Linked DNA regions of Homo sapiens: regions 1 and 3 are each reported to be linked to region 2. Evidence: microRNA targets listed by miRTarBase, many of them from high-throughput screens and not tested one by one. Region 2 holds a microRNA gene; each other region holds the end of a gene's coding sequence.
Evidence for each region. Region 2 holds the annotated microRNA hsa-miR-6808-5p (CAGGCAGGGAGGUGGGACCAUG, at 2,644-2,665, opposite strand). A microRNA usually pairs through its seed, bases 2 to 8, with sites in the 3' UTR of a target mRNA and lowers its output. Matches are read on the target gene's strand: a 7mer-m8 pairs with bases 2 to 8, a 7mer-A1 pairs with bases 2 to 7 and ends in A, and an 8mer does both.

Region 1 (4,000 bases), not on the chromosome of region 2:
TGACAGCGACCATTCAGAGAACAACTGTGCCGCCTTCTACCGCGGTGCCTGGTGGTACCGCAACTGCCACACGTCCAACCTCAATGGGCAGTACCTGCGCGGTGCGCACGCCTCCTATGCCGACGGCGTGGAGTGGTCCTCCTGGACCGGCTGGCAGTACTCACTCAAGTTCTCTGAGATGAAGATCCGGCCGGTCCGGGAGGACCGCTAGACTGGTGCACCTTGTCCTTGGCCCTGCTGGTCCCTGTCGCCCCATCCCCGACCCCACCTCACTCTTTCGTGAATGTTCTCCACCCACCTGTGCCTGGCGGACCCACTCTCCAGTAGGGAGGGGCCGGGCCATCCCTGACACGAAGCTCCCTGGGCCGGTGAAGTCACACATCGCCTTCTCGCCGTCCCCACCCCCTCCATTTGGCAGCTCACTGATCTCTTGCCTCTGCTGATGGGGGCTGGCAAACTTGACGACCCCAACTCCTGCCTGCCCCCACTGTGACTCCGGTGCTGTTTGCCGTCCCCTGGCCAGGATGGTGGAGTCTGCCCCAGGCACCCTCTGCCCTGCCCGGCCAAATACCCGGCATTATGGGGACAGAGAGCAGGGGGCAGACAGCACCCCTGGAGTCCTCCTAGCAGATCGTGGGGAACGTCAGGTCTCTCTGAGGTCAGGTCTGAGGCCAGTATCCTCCAGCCCTCCCAATGCCAACCCCCACCCCGTTTCCCTGGTGCCCAGAGAACCCACCTCTCCCCCAAGGGCCTCAGCCTGGCTGTGGGCTGGGTGGCCCCATCCTACCAGGCCCTGAGGTCAGGATGGGGAGCTGCTGCCTTTGGGGACCCACGCTCCAAGGCTGAGACCAGTTCCCTGGAGGCCACCCACCCTGTGCCCCGGCAGGCCTGGGGTCTGCAGTCCTCTTACCTGCTGTGCCCACCTGCTCTCTGTCTCAAATGAGGCCCAACCCATCCCCCACCCAGCTCCCGGCCGTCCTCCTACCTGGGGCAGCTGGGGCTGCCATCCCATTTCTCCTGCCTCTGGAAGGTGGGTGGGGCCCTGCACCGTGGGGCTGGACTGCGCTAATGGGAAGCTCTTGGTTTTCTGGGCTGGGGCCTAGGCAGGGCTGGGATGAGGCTTGTACAACCCCCACCACCAATTTCCCAGGGACTCCAGGGTCCTGAGGCCTCCCAGGAGGGCCTTGGGGGTGATGACCCCTTCCCTGAGGTGGCTGTCTCCATGAGGAGGCCAACCCTTGCCATTGACCGTGGCCACCTGGACCCAGGCCAGGCCCGGCCCGGCGAGTGGTCAAGGGACAGGGACCACCTCACCGGGCAAATGGGGTCGGGGGGACTGGGGCACCAGACCAGGCACCACCTGGACACTTTCTTGTTGAATCCTCCCAACACCCAGCACGCTGTCATCCCCACTCCTTGTGTGCACACATGCAGAGGTGAGACCCGCAGGCTCCCAGGACCAGCAGCCACAAGGGCAGGGCTGGAGCCGGGTCCTCAGCTGTCTGCTCAGCAGCCCTGGACCCGCGTGCGTTACGTCAGGCCCAGATGCAGGGCGGCTTTTCCAAGGCCTCCTGATGGGGGGCCTCCGAAAGGGCTGGAGTCAGCCTTGGGGAGCTGCCTAGCAGCCTCTCCTCGGGCAGGAGGGGAGGTGGCTTCCTCCAAAGGACACCCGATGGCAGGTGCCTAGGGGGTGTGGGGTTCCGTTCTCCCTTCCCCTCCCACTGAAGTTTGTGCTTAAAAAACAATAAATTTGACTTGGCACCACTGGGGGTTGGTGGGAGAGGCCGTGTGACCTGGCTCTCTGTCCCAGTGCCACCAGGTCATCCACATGCGCAGATGTCTGCAGCGCTTCCTTCTGCCGTGGGCCCAGGCTGGACAGGACCTGGTCCCTGCCCTCTCGGTCCTCAGCTGGACGCAGATACAGCCAAGAATCAGGCAGTGGCAGCCTAGTGTGGCCGGGGTGGTGGCTGGAGCAGGCCAGGTGCGGGGCCACAAGGGGCAAGATGTGGGCAAAATGACCACATGAGATTCAACGGGAAATCCCTTCTTGGCTCCTCTTCCCACCATCTAGAAGCCAAGGGAGCCCACCCAGACCATCTGGGTTCCCAGAGCACCCTGTCATATTGCAGGGGCTGGGTGGGACCCGAGTTCTCATCCCAGGAGCCCCCCACCGACAGGCCCCAGGCAGGAGCTACCAGCCTCCCCATGCCAGTGACTGCGCCAGCGACTGCTTAGAAAGTGCCAGCACTTTCTGATGTGTCATCAAACAAACTCCTGGTGAGTGTGAAGTTAATGGACTCACAGATGTGTGGGTGCAGCAGGAGGCACCAGGGCCCTCGTGCCAGGGCTTGGCTGTGGAACAGATGCACCATGGCTGGGGCCTGGCGAGGGGCCGGGGGCAGGTGCAGGTGGCCTGTGAGCCTGTGGTCCAGGTCCAGGTCCCGGCAGCATCTGTCCTCAGTGGCTGGCTGCACTGGGGATGCCTGTCCCTTCTAGAGCCCTGTTACTGCCCTAGAGCACCGGCCCCTGTCCCAGACCAGGAGAGGGCACATGGCCCTACCAAGCACCGGCTGAATGGGCACGGAGCTTGACATGGTGGGGAGGGCCCAGGCCAGCGCACCGGCCCCACCCTCCCCAGGGGCACCTTCAAAGGCTGGCACTGGGGAAAAACGGTCCCTGCGCACCTGCTCCGGGCCACACCCTCTCACCCTAGCCCTGCAGAGCCTACGGTCTGATACCAGTGCAAATGGCTCTCATCTGAGACAGGAGGATGGGGATGCTGGGAGAGCCCTGGGCGAGGGACAGCTCGAGACCTGTGGGCTGAGTGACCAGGCCAAGGGCTAGCATGTGCACAGGGTCGCCTGGGACCCACGGGCCCCAAACCGTCCCCTGGGACCCAGTTTGAGGGTGGATGCCTGCAGCCCTCCATCCCACAATGCCACCTGACTGAGCCTCCTCCTGCTGCTTCACTTGAGGGGAGTAAGCTGAGTGGGAGGGGTCTCTGCATCGCCACACTGGGACCTGGAGGCAGCGCACCTGCGCCGTTGCTTCTCCACGTGCACAGGTAGGTTTTGTGGCTCAGCCAGTGGCCTTCCTCCTTTCCCCTAAACTTCACACATATCTCAGAGAGTTACACCAAAGGCCACGCAGCTGACTGCCTGAGCACCAAGGTCCAGAGGATGGAAGGAACCTTGGTTTCCATGCTGGTGGCCTCAGCACATTCAGCTGGAGAACAGCAAAGGAACAGAGCTGTGAGCCATTCTCAAACAGCTTTCCCCTGCAGCTGCGTGTAAATTGGTTTTATAATGTTTGTCTTTGGGACAAAAGCTGTATCGCCAGTGCCTACCTCCTTCTGGTGCCCCTAACCCTTCCTGCCACCTGTCCTCGTCCACACAGGCCTCTGGCTGGCTTGGCTGGGGCCAGAGCCCTGGAAGCTGGGAGCCAGGGTCTCTGGAGGCCCTGTCACCCAGGGGCGTGTCTGAGCAGGCAGAGATTTGGAGGATTGTTGAACCATCTCAAACCATGAGGACGCTGGCTCCAGGGAGGGGAAGGAAGAGGAGAGGTACCGTTTGTGTGAGATGGGGGGACGGGACATAAAGAACGCCTGTGGCCAGCGGCAGACCCGTCCTGTGACTTCAGGAGCAATGTACCGGCAGGAGGACCCAGCAGGGGACACACAGAACCCAGAACAAGGAGACAGGACACTAAGCTTTGGCCTCAGCGGACCGGGCTTCCCCAGGGCCTCCATTTCTTCATCTGCTTTCAGAGACAAGGATGTCCCCAAACTGTGTGGCCCAAGCAGCCGGCAGGACTTGGCAAACCCAGAGGGCTGAGGTCGGGCCTCGGTGGGATTTGTAGGGAGTGTTGGGAGCTCTGGCTCAAGGCTGGCCACGTTGGCCCCTCATGCGCTGACAGGTGTGTCTGACTCGGGCCACACAGCACTGGCCAGGGCTGCAGAGGGAGCTCAGAGGGCCAGCACAGCGACTGGTGGAGGAAGCCT
Region 2 (4,146 bases):
AGTCCTTCAGTCTAAGGCTTGTTTAGCACAAGACAAGGGATAGCACGAGTTACACGCCCGGCTGCCTGGCACCTGCCCAGCACCCACCCGCCACCAGTGGGGACTGACCGCGGGCTGGGCGGGGCTGAAGTGGGCGCAAGCGCCGGTCGAGGGTCAGTAGACACCCAGCGTGGCTTCTCTGCGGTCCCACACCCTCTGGCCGCCTCTCCTCTCTCGCCCTCCTTCCTGGGCCCTCCACGAAGCCACCTGCACCCCTCCCTGGCCTGCAGACGCCCCTGCTGGCCTCACCAACCCCACCCACTGGGGCCTCTGCTCCACCAGGCAACACCTCAGGAACACTCTGGATCCCCGGCCCCTAAACACACCCCAGCCAGGGGCACAAGGCTAGGATGCACGGCACCATCCACGTCAGGCTCCCTACCCGGGCTGCAGCTGCCACCCTCCTGTGTCCTGGGGCCTAGAAAGTGACCCTGTCAGACTCCTTGGCCACCCCTGCCCTGTCCTTGTCACATGGCCCATGGCCACATGGTCTCAGGGCCTCCTGCCTCTACCATAGGAGAACCACCAGCCGCCACCCCTACCAGGCACAGCCGCCCAGGCCGCCAGGCTCCTGGAGGCCCCTCATCCCAATCCCACCCAGATGAGGTGGGGTCCAGGCTGCCCCTGTGTGAGACGCTTCCCTGTCCTCCCCATTCACACTGGCTCCTGGATCCCCCTGGCACTTGCCTTTTCCAGAAGGAGCCCACCCAGGGCCCAAGTACACAGCAGGAGCATGGGATTGGGGTCAGCAGAGAAGCAGGGCGGAGCAGCAGCGGGGTGGGGTGGAGCTGGGGGTGGAGCAGCAGCGGGGTGGGGTGGAACTGGGGGCGGAGCAGCAGTGGAGTGGGGCGGAGCTGGGGGCGGAGCCGGGGAAGGGCAGGTAGGGGCGGCGTTCTCACCTTCACTCTGCTGACTCCCGGTGCTGCCGCTGCCATAGCTAAAGCCCGGGTCCTGGTAGGCAGGCGGGAAGCAGGGTGGGGGTCCCGGGTACTGGTAGGGGTAGCCCTGACCCAGAGGCCAGGGGGCAGCCGGGTGGGGCAGCGGGGCCAGCGTGTCCTGATCCGAAGTCCCACTGGAGCCACTGTTGAGGTTCAGGGTGGCGAGATCTGGCGGGGGAGGGTAGGTGAGGGCCGCGGAGGGGCCTCCGGCGTTCCCCTCCCCCCCGCCCTGAAGCCCGAAGCCCCCACTCACTGCTGCAGAGATCCCCGAAGACGTAGTAGCACTGCTCGGAGAAGGTGATCTTGTTGACCGTGTGCCGCAGGAAGCCGTGCTTCAGCAAGCTGCTGGCGTACTTCCGGGCCTCCCGCCGCTCCTTGAAGCCCTCCACGTGTGTGTACAGCCAGTCCACCACGTCCGCCCCTGGCCGGCACCAGCGGTCAGCCCGCAGCCTCGAGGCAAGCAGCCCTGCCCCTGGCACTATCCGCCCGCGGGGACGGCCACTCACCGATGACGGCATTGGCGATGGTGATCTTGAGCCACATGCGGTCGCGGATCTCCAGTCCCGAGTCTGGCAGCTGCATGACCCGGACGACGGCGCTCATGTCACTCTTCACCGTCAGCGGCGCCTCTTCCAGCTCTGCAAAGCACAGACAGCCCCGCTTCAGCCCCAGCATCTGAAGGCGGGGGACTCAGGGCCCTGCACCCCCAGGGGAGCCTCTGGGCAGAGCCTGCGCCAGGGCGCAAGCTGGACGGTGCGTGACAGCAGGGCCCCGGCCCACTGCAGGATGCACCCCCGTGAGGCTGGGGCGTGAGCAGGGGGGTTGGACATTTAGTCTCCCACTTCTACAGACACTTTTCATCAGGATCCTAGGCACAAACTGGGCTGACACCCCACCCTGCAGACCAGGAAGTAATGAGAACAGGGCAGGCCCCTTCCCCTCCCCGCATGCCCCACCCGAGAGCGCAGGCTGTTAGTCGTGTTAATGGCAGGAAGCAGAATGGAGACCTGGCCCCTGCCTCTGACGCCGTGGGTGCTCCCCGCATAGGGGCCCTACGTACATCCCCTGTTCCCAACACACAGACCATGAGCAGGATGGGCTGCACAAGGTGGGCACGGGTGCCTGTGCACACGTCTGTGCAGGGAGTTGGGGACAGGCAACACACACGTGTCACAGCCCCATGACGGCCACAGGCGGCCATGCTGGAGGCTGGCAGAGACGCCCCCTCCAAGCCTCGGTTTCTGCTGGGGCCCTCAGGAGCTGCCACTTACGTGGAGCACCAGGCACGGAGCTGGTTAGTGAGGAGGAGCTGGTGCGCGTGACGGCGCTGGAGCAGGGACTCGTACCGTAGCGGGGCAGGGCTCCTGTCAGTGCCGCCGTGTGGGACAGCCAGGCGGCGGGGTCGATGGGCCGCACCGGGTCAGCTGGGTGGCCGCCACGTGGCGATGACAGGCGGACAGATGGACAGGGTGGGAGGGCAGGGTGCAGGGCACAGAGGAGAGAGGCCTTCAGGCTAGGTAGGCGCCCCCTCCCCATCCCGCCCCGTGTGCCCCGAGGGCCACTCACCCCGTGGGACGGTGAAGTAGCTTCGGGGCGTTGGGTCCCAGCACTTGGCCACAGTGAGGCTGATGGGCCTGCAGGAACGGTGGTCACACAGCAAGGCCCCCATGGTCCCACCTCCCTGCCTGGCCCCTCCCGCTCCAGCGCCCCCAGCCCTCACCCCGTCTGGGAAACGATCTCCCGCAGCACCCGCACGGCATCGTCATTGCTCATGTTCTCAAAGTTCACGTCATTCACCTGCAGGGGTGGGGATTAGGGTGGTGCAGGCAGGATGTGCAGCTCAGTCCACCGCCCCCGCAGACCCACCCACAGCCGCATGTCCCCCAGCAGCCCCCGCAGACCCACCCGCAGCCGCATGTCCCCCAGCAGCCCCTACAGACCCACCCGCAGCCGCACGTCACCCCAAAGTCCCCACGGACCCACCCGCAGCTACATGTCACCCCGCAGCCCCCACAGACACACCTGCAGCAACATGTCGCCGGGCTCGATGCGGCCGTCAGCGGCCACAGCCCCGCCCTTCATGATGGAGCCAATGTAGATGCCGCCGTCTCCACGGTCGTTGCTCTGCCCCACGATGCTGATGCCCAGAAAGTGATGTCTTTCTGCAGGAAGAGCCATGAGCCGCGGCCAAGCCCCTGCCCCTGCCCCCAACCCTCGCCCCGAGGCCTCACCCATGTTGAGCGTGACAGTGACGATGTTGAGGGACATGGTGGAGTCGGTTATGCTGCTGAAGGAGGAGGCCTATGGAGGAGAGGGGGCGTGTGTAAAAGGCACGGGGCTGCCCGACACTGACTTCGCCTCCCCAGCCCCGCCCTGCTCCACCCGGCTGCCTACCCGGTCCGCCTGCCGAAGGCGCTGCTTCCTCCGCCGGCGTTTGTGCTTCCGGATGAGTCTGGATGAGGTGCTCTGCTCCGTGGAGCTGCTGAGCCTGGGAACAGACTGTCAGAGCTCAGAGGAGCTGGAGACATGGGTAGGGGGGTGGGAACCCGCTCCCCCAATACTGAGTGGGAATCGGGGGTCTAGGCCAGGCTTGTTCCAAAGCAGGCTCAGTGCCTGACGTCCACGCCCCAGGCCCTGCACACGTGATATGCATATGAGCACACACGAAAATCCCAGAGACAGGCAAACTGGGCACAGACACATGTAGCCAGATCCACTACTGACACACCTGCACACATGCACACCTGCACACACATGCACACCTGCACACACGCACCCCTGCACAAGGCACACATGCACACACCTGCACACACACCTGCACACACGCAACCCTGCACACATGCACCCCTGCGCACAGGCACACATGCACACCCCTGCACACGCACGCATGAACACACGCACACCTGCACACGCATGCACACCTGCACACACGCACCCCTGCACACTACACACCTGCACAGGCACACATGCACACCTGCATACTCACCTGCACACGCACCCCTGCACAATGCACCCCTGCACACACGCACCCCTGCACACACATGCACACCTGCACACACGCACCCCTGCACACAGGCACACCTGCACACACCTGCACACGCACGCCTGCACATGCACACCTGCACGCACACCTTCACATACACCTGTACAAGCACACCTGCACACACGC
Region 3 (4,000 bases), not on the chromosome of region 2:
GTCCGATTAAAAGGGGCCCAGTGCCTTCAAGGCCTGTCTACTGTGGTACCGGAGTGATTATTTCGATTGTATCTCCTTTACAGCTTGGTCCAGAGAGCTGCCTTAGACTATCCAATTGATCTATTCAAACAGCTGCCTGTTCCCTTAACTTGTCTTCAGATTTTGTCGACCCGAGATGGGTCCTGGCACTAGGAATGTAAAACCGTTCCTATTATTTTGGCTTGCTCCAGCAAAAGAGAAGCCCATGCAAGGCTCCTGCTGACCATGTTTCATTTCTAGCTTTGATGTCTGGGCACTGATTTCCCTAGATTTAACTATGTGCTCAATGGTAAGGCAGTGCTGTGGAAATCTGTCTGTGTAACTGGGGTGCTATGCAGGCCTGTCTGGGTGACTGTCAGGGACAACTGTCCTACCACACCAAGGACACAGCCCTGGGGGTGCTTTTCTTCATAGCCAAAGAAGCTGCAGGAAACCCACCCTAGTGGGACAAAGACCAATGCAGGGTCAGTCCCCACAGCCAGGTGATGCAAACAGGCTGGACGTGGGCCGCCTCCCCTCCAGCTTGACTTGTGACAGGGAAACCAATGCAGCAGCAGCAGGGCCACCAGAGTCCTGTCCTGGGGACAGGCTTCCTTCCAGCGGGCGGGGAGTGGGTGCTCCTGCCAGACCAGCCTGGCTTCCACGGTTCCAGAGACCCTGTTCTCCCTCAGCCCAGTCCCCGCCCCCACTCCTTGGCTTTATGAGTTCATTGGCTGAAGTCACCCGGAGACAATGCTGAGTGTTCCACCCCTGAGTCGAAGCCCAGCCCAGGGCAGCCCAGCCAGACGCCTCCGGTAGTGTAAATGAGGACAATGCCTGCTGGCCCACATGACGGGGGGATGTAGACGGCAGCGGCGCCAGTCGCTCCTGGCACCATGGACGATGCCACAGTCCTAAGGAAGAAGGGTTACATCGTAGGCATCAATCTTGGCAAGGGTTCCTACGCAAAAGTCAAATCTGCCTACTCTGAGCGCCTCAAGTTCAATGTGGCTGTCAAGATCATCGACCGCAAGAAAACACCTACTGACTTTGTGGAGAGATTCCTTCCTCGGGAGATGGACATCCTGGCAACTGTCAACCACGGCTCCATCATCAAGACTTACGAGATCTTTGAGACCTCTGACGGACGGATCTACATCATCATGGAGCTTGGCGTCCAGGGCGACCTCCTCGAGTTCATCAAGTGCCAGGGAGCCCTGCATGAGGACGTGGCACGCAAGATGTTCCGACAGCTCTCCTCCGCCGTCAAGTACTGCCACGACCTGGACATCGTCCACCGGGACCTCAAGTGCGAGAACCTTCTCCTCGACAAGGACTTCAACATCAAGCTGTCTGACTTTGGCTTCTCCAAGCGCTGCCTGCGGGACAGCAATGGGCGCATCATCCTCAGCAAGACCTTCTGCGGGTCGGCAGCATATGCAGCCCCCGAGGTGCTGCAGAGCATCCCCTACCAGCCCAAGGTGTATGACATCTGGAGCCTGGGCGTGATCCTGTACATCATGGTCTGCGGCTCCATGCCCTATGACGACTCCGACATCAGGAAGATGCTGCGTATCCAGAAGGAGCACCGTGTGGACTTCCCGCGCTCCAAGAACCTGACCTGCGAGTGCAAGGACCTCATCTACCGCATGCTGCAGCCCGACGTCAGCCAGCGGCTCCACATCGATGAGATCCTCAGCCACTCGTGGCTGCAGCCCCCCAAGCCCAAAGCCACGTCTTCTGCCTCCTTCAAGAGGGAGGGGGAGGGCAAGTACCGCGCTGAGTGCAAACTGGACACCAAGACAGGCTTGAGGCCCGACCACCGGCCCGACCACAAGCTTGGAGCCAAAACCCAGCACCGGCTGCTGGTGGTGCCCGAGAACGAGAACAGGATGGAGGACAGGCTGGCCGAGACCTCCAGGGCCAAAGACCATCACATCTCCGGAGCTGAGGTGGGGAAAGCAAGCACCTAGCATGACAATGGCCCCGTTGTGTGTGGTGGGGGTCGGGGTTGGGGGGCATGGTGCAGTCGGCCTTCACGTAAACTAAGTAGGCAGGTAGGATCTGAAGAAGGCACAGGTGCAAGTAAAATTCGTCAATTAAACCACTATTTTGATTACGTTCCATTAGCTTTCTTCCACTTAGCAGCAAAGACGTTCCTTACTGACCACCAAATAAACCACAGGGTGTGTGCAAGCATCAAGAGTGCCCAGTGAGGAGTGTTTTTCTCTGGGACTCAGCCAACCGCCCCACCTGACACACAGTGGTCTCCGGCCTAGGAGCACAGGACAGATGCTCAGGTACAGGCAGAATCACAGTGTGGCCTGGCCTTGTGGGGGACAAGAGGGCCTCTGCCAGGGTCCACCCACCAGGCCCACACTGTCTCCCTCTGACCTGGCCTTGTCCCCAATGCCCTGGGGCTGGCCAGCTCCAGTGGTCCACGACTCCCCCTGGCTTCCTGCAGTTCAGCCCCCTCTGACCTACCCCCACTCCCTCACAATCCCTCGCTCAGCATCCTCCTCTTCCTCTATTTCCTGGAGTCATGTGAGATTTCTGTCCTCAGCCCTCAAGTTCCCTGCCCTGTCCTCCAGGGGCAGCCCCAGCTGAGACCTCCCCGTGTGCCCTCCCCACCCAGTGGCTCTTCAAGCTGCTCAGCAGCCCTTGATGATGGCACACTGGCCGGTCTTTTGTGCTTCCTGCTGGGTCACCCATTGCTCCCAAAGCATGCGGCCCACTTGCTGGCCAAGTGCTCCAGGTGGTCAGCACCTAGACATGCTCCTCCCCCCTCCCTCCCCACTTCCTGGGGGCTCCCTTGGGATAACGTGCACCCTTTCCTAGGGGATAAAGCACTGAAGGCCCCACGTCCCCCACCCCTTAAGAGTCCCAGCCTGATCTGTCCAGCAACCCACTGTTATCTGGGAGCTCCTGTTGGTGGAAGTGACCAGGTGAGGCCAGGGCCAGCAGCATAAGATGGGCAGTGCCTATAGCAGAGGGGTGAGTGGGATAGTCCCACCCCATGAGCTGGAAGCCAGGTGCTGGGAGAAGGTGATAGCTGAGATCACCTGATATGCAGCCCCCACACAGTCCTATAACCAGCGCACCTCACAGCCGGCAAGCCCAGAGTGGAGGCTGCAGACCTGGGCCCAGAACCGCAGGGGAACCTAAGGGTACAACTTCCAAGGGCTCCGTTTCTCCTTCATATCCCCCCAGAGAAGCAGAAAGCACTGCAGGATGTGAGCTCAACTCAGAACACAGGTTCCGAGTGCCGCAGAAAGCAACGCCAGTCACCCGGTGCTCCCACAGCCGCCCCACCTGCAGCTTCCTCACCTGGGGGGCCCCTCGCTTCAAGCCCCGCAGTCCTGAGACGTGATGCAGGCCCCAGGGCAAGGCTAGGGCTCGTGTGGGGAGCAAGATGGAGAGGCAACCCCCCAGACTGTACCTAGGTGTTCTTTAATGACAGTTCAAGGGGCCAATTAAACAGCAAACAGCTTGGCAAGGCCCTGGGGTGTGGTGTGGGCACGAGTGCCTTGTGCCAGTCTGGCCCCAGCACAGCCCCTTTCTCCAGTGACTCCTGGTATGGTCAACAGCTTCTGGCCCAGGCCTGGGCCCCGAGAAGGCTGGAGTCCTCTGCTGGGTGTACAGCTGCCCTGCAGGCTCTGTGAAGCGTCTATGAGCCCAGCCCAGGCCTGGCTCTAAAAGAAGTCCGAAGCTTTGCGCCGGGCAGGGAGCTGCAGCAGGTTGTCCGTGATGGAGGCCGGGTCCTGTGTGAGAGGGGTGCGTGTGGCAGAGCCAGGCGCCGGTGTGCTTGTGGGGGTCTGCAGCCCACTGGCCGGGGTCTTGAGGTGGGTGGAGCGTGCTGGGGATGGTGTGTAGCTGGCCCGCAGGGCCCGGTCTGTGTACTTGCTGGCCGTCCTGCTCACAAGGCGCTGTAGGGCTGGCGACATGGCTGGGCTCAGGCCTTTGGGGGTGAGGCTGGGGTGGA

Region 1: the mRNA of FIBCD1 is a reported target of hsa-miR-6808-5p. Seed matches in the 3' UTR shown: 7mer-m8 at 474-480, 7mer-m8 at 1,017-1,023 and 7mer-A1 at 1,615-1,621.
Region 3: miRTarBase lists ESS2 as a target of hsa-miR-6808-5p. Seed matches in the 3' UTR shown: 8mer at 2,069-2,076.

Annotation. Positions count from the first base shown.
Region 1 is chr9:130,900,275-130,904,274 of GRCh38, reverse strand. It overlaps FIBCD1 (fibrinogen C domain containing 1), which reads left to right. Exons shown (of 7, transcript NM_032843.5): 7 at 1-1,835. The coding sequence ends at 211. Among named protein-coding and RNA genes, the nearest start is that of QRFP, 5.5 kb to the right of the region's middle.
Region 2 is chr1:1,337,039-1,341,184 of GRCh38, forward strand. MIR6808 (microRNA 6808) reads right to left here and starts at 2,670; the gene lies at 2,612-2,670. DVL1 (dishevelled segment polarity protein 1) reads right to left here. Exons shown (of 15, transcript NM_001330311.2): 6 at 3,372-3,465; 7 at 3,209-3,278; 8 at 3,000-3,139; 9 at 2,698-2,774; 10 at 2,544-2,611; 11 at 2,249-2,401; 12 at 1,484-1,615; 13 at 1,231-1,398; 14 at 939-1,145. RefSeq lists a silencer at 906-965.
Region 3 is chr22:19,130,486-19,134,485 of GRCh38, forward strand. ESS2 (ess-2 spliceosome associated protein) reads right to left here. Exons shown (of 10, transcript NM_022719.3): 10 at 1-3,990. The coding sequence ends at 3,711. It overlaps TSSK2 (testis specific serine kinase 2), which reads left to right and starts at 823. Exons shown (of 1, transcript NM_053006.5): 1 at 823-2,137. The coding sequence starts at 915. The coding sequence ends at 1,991.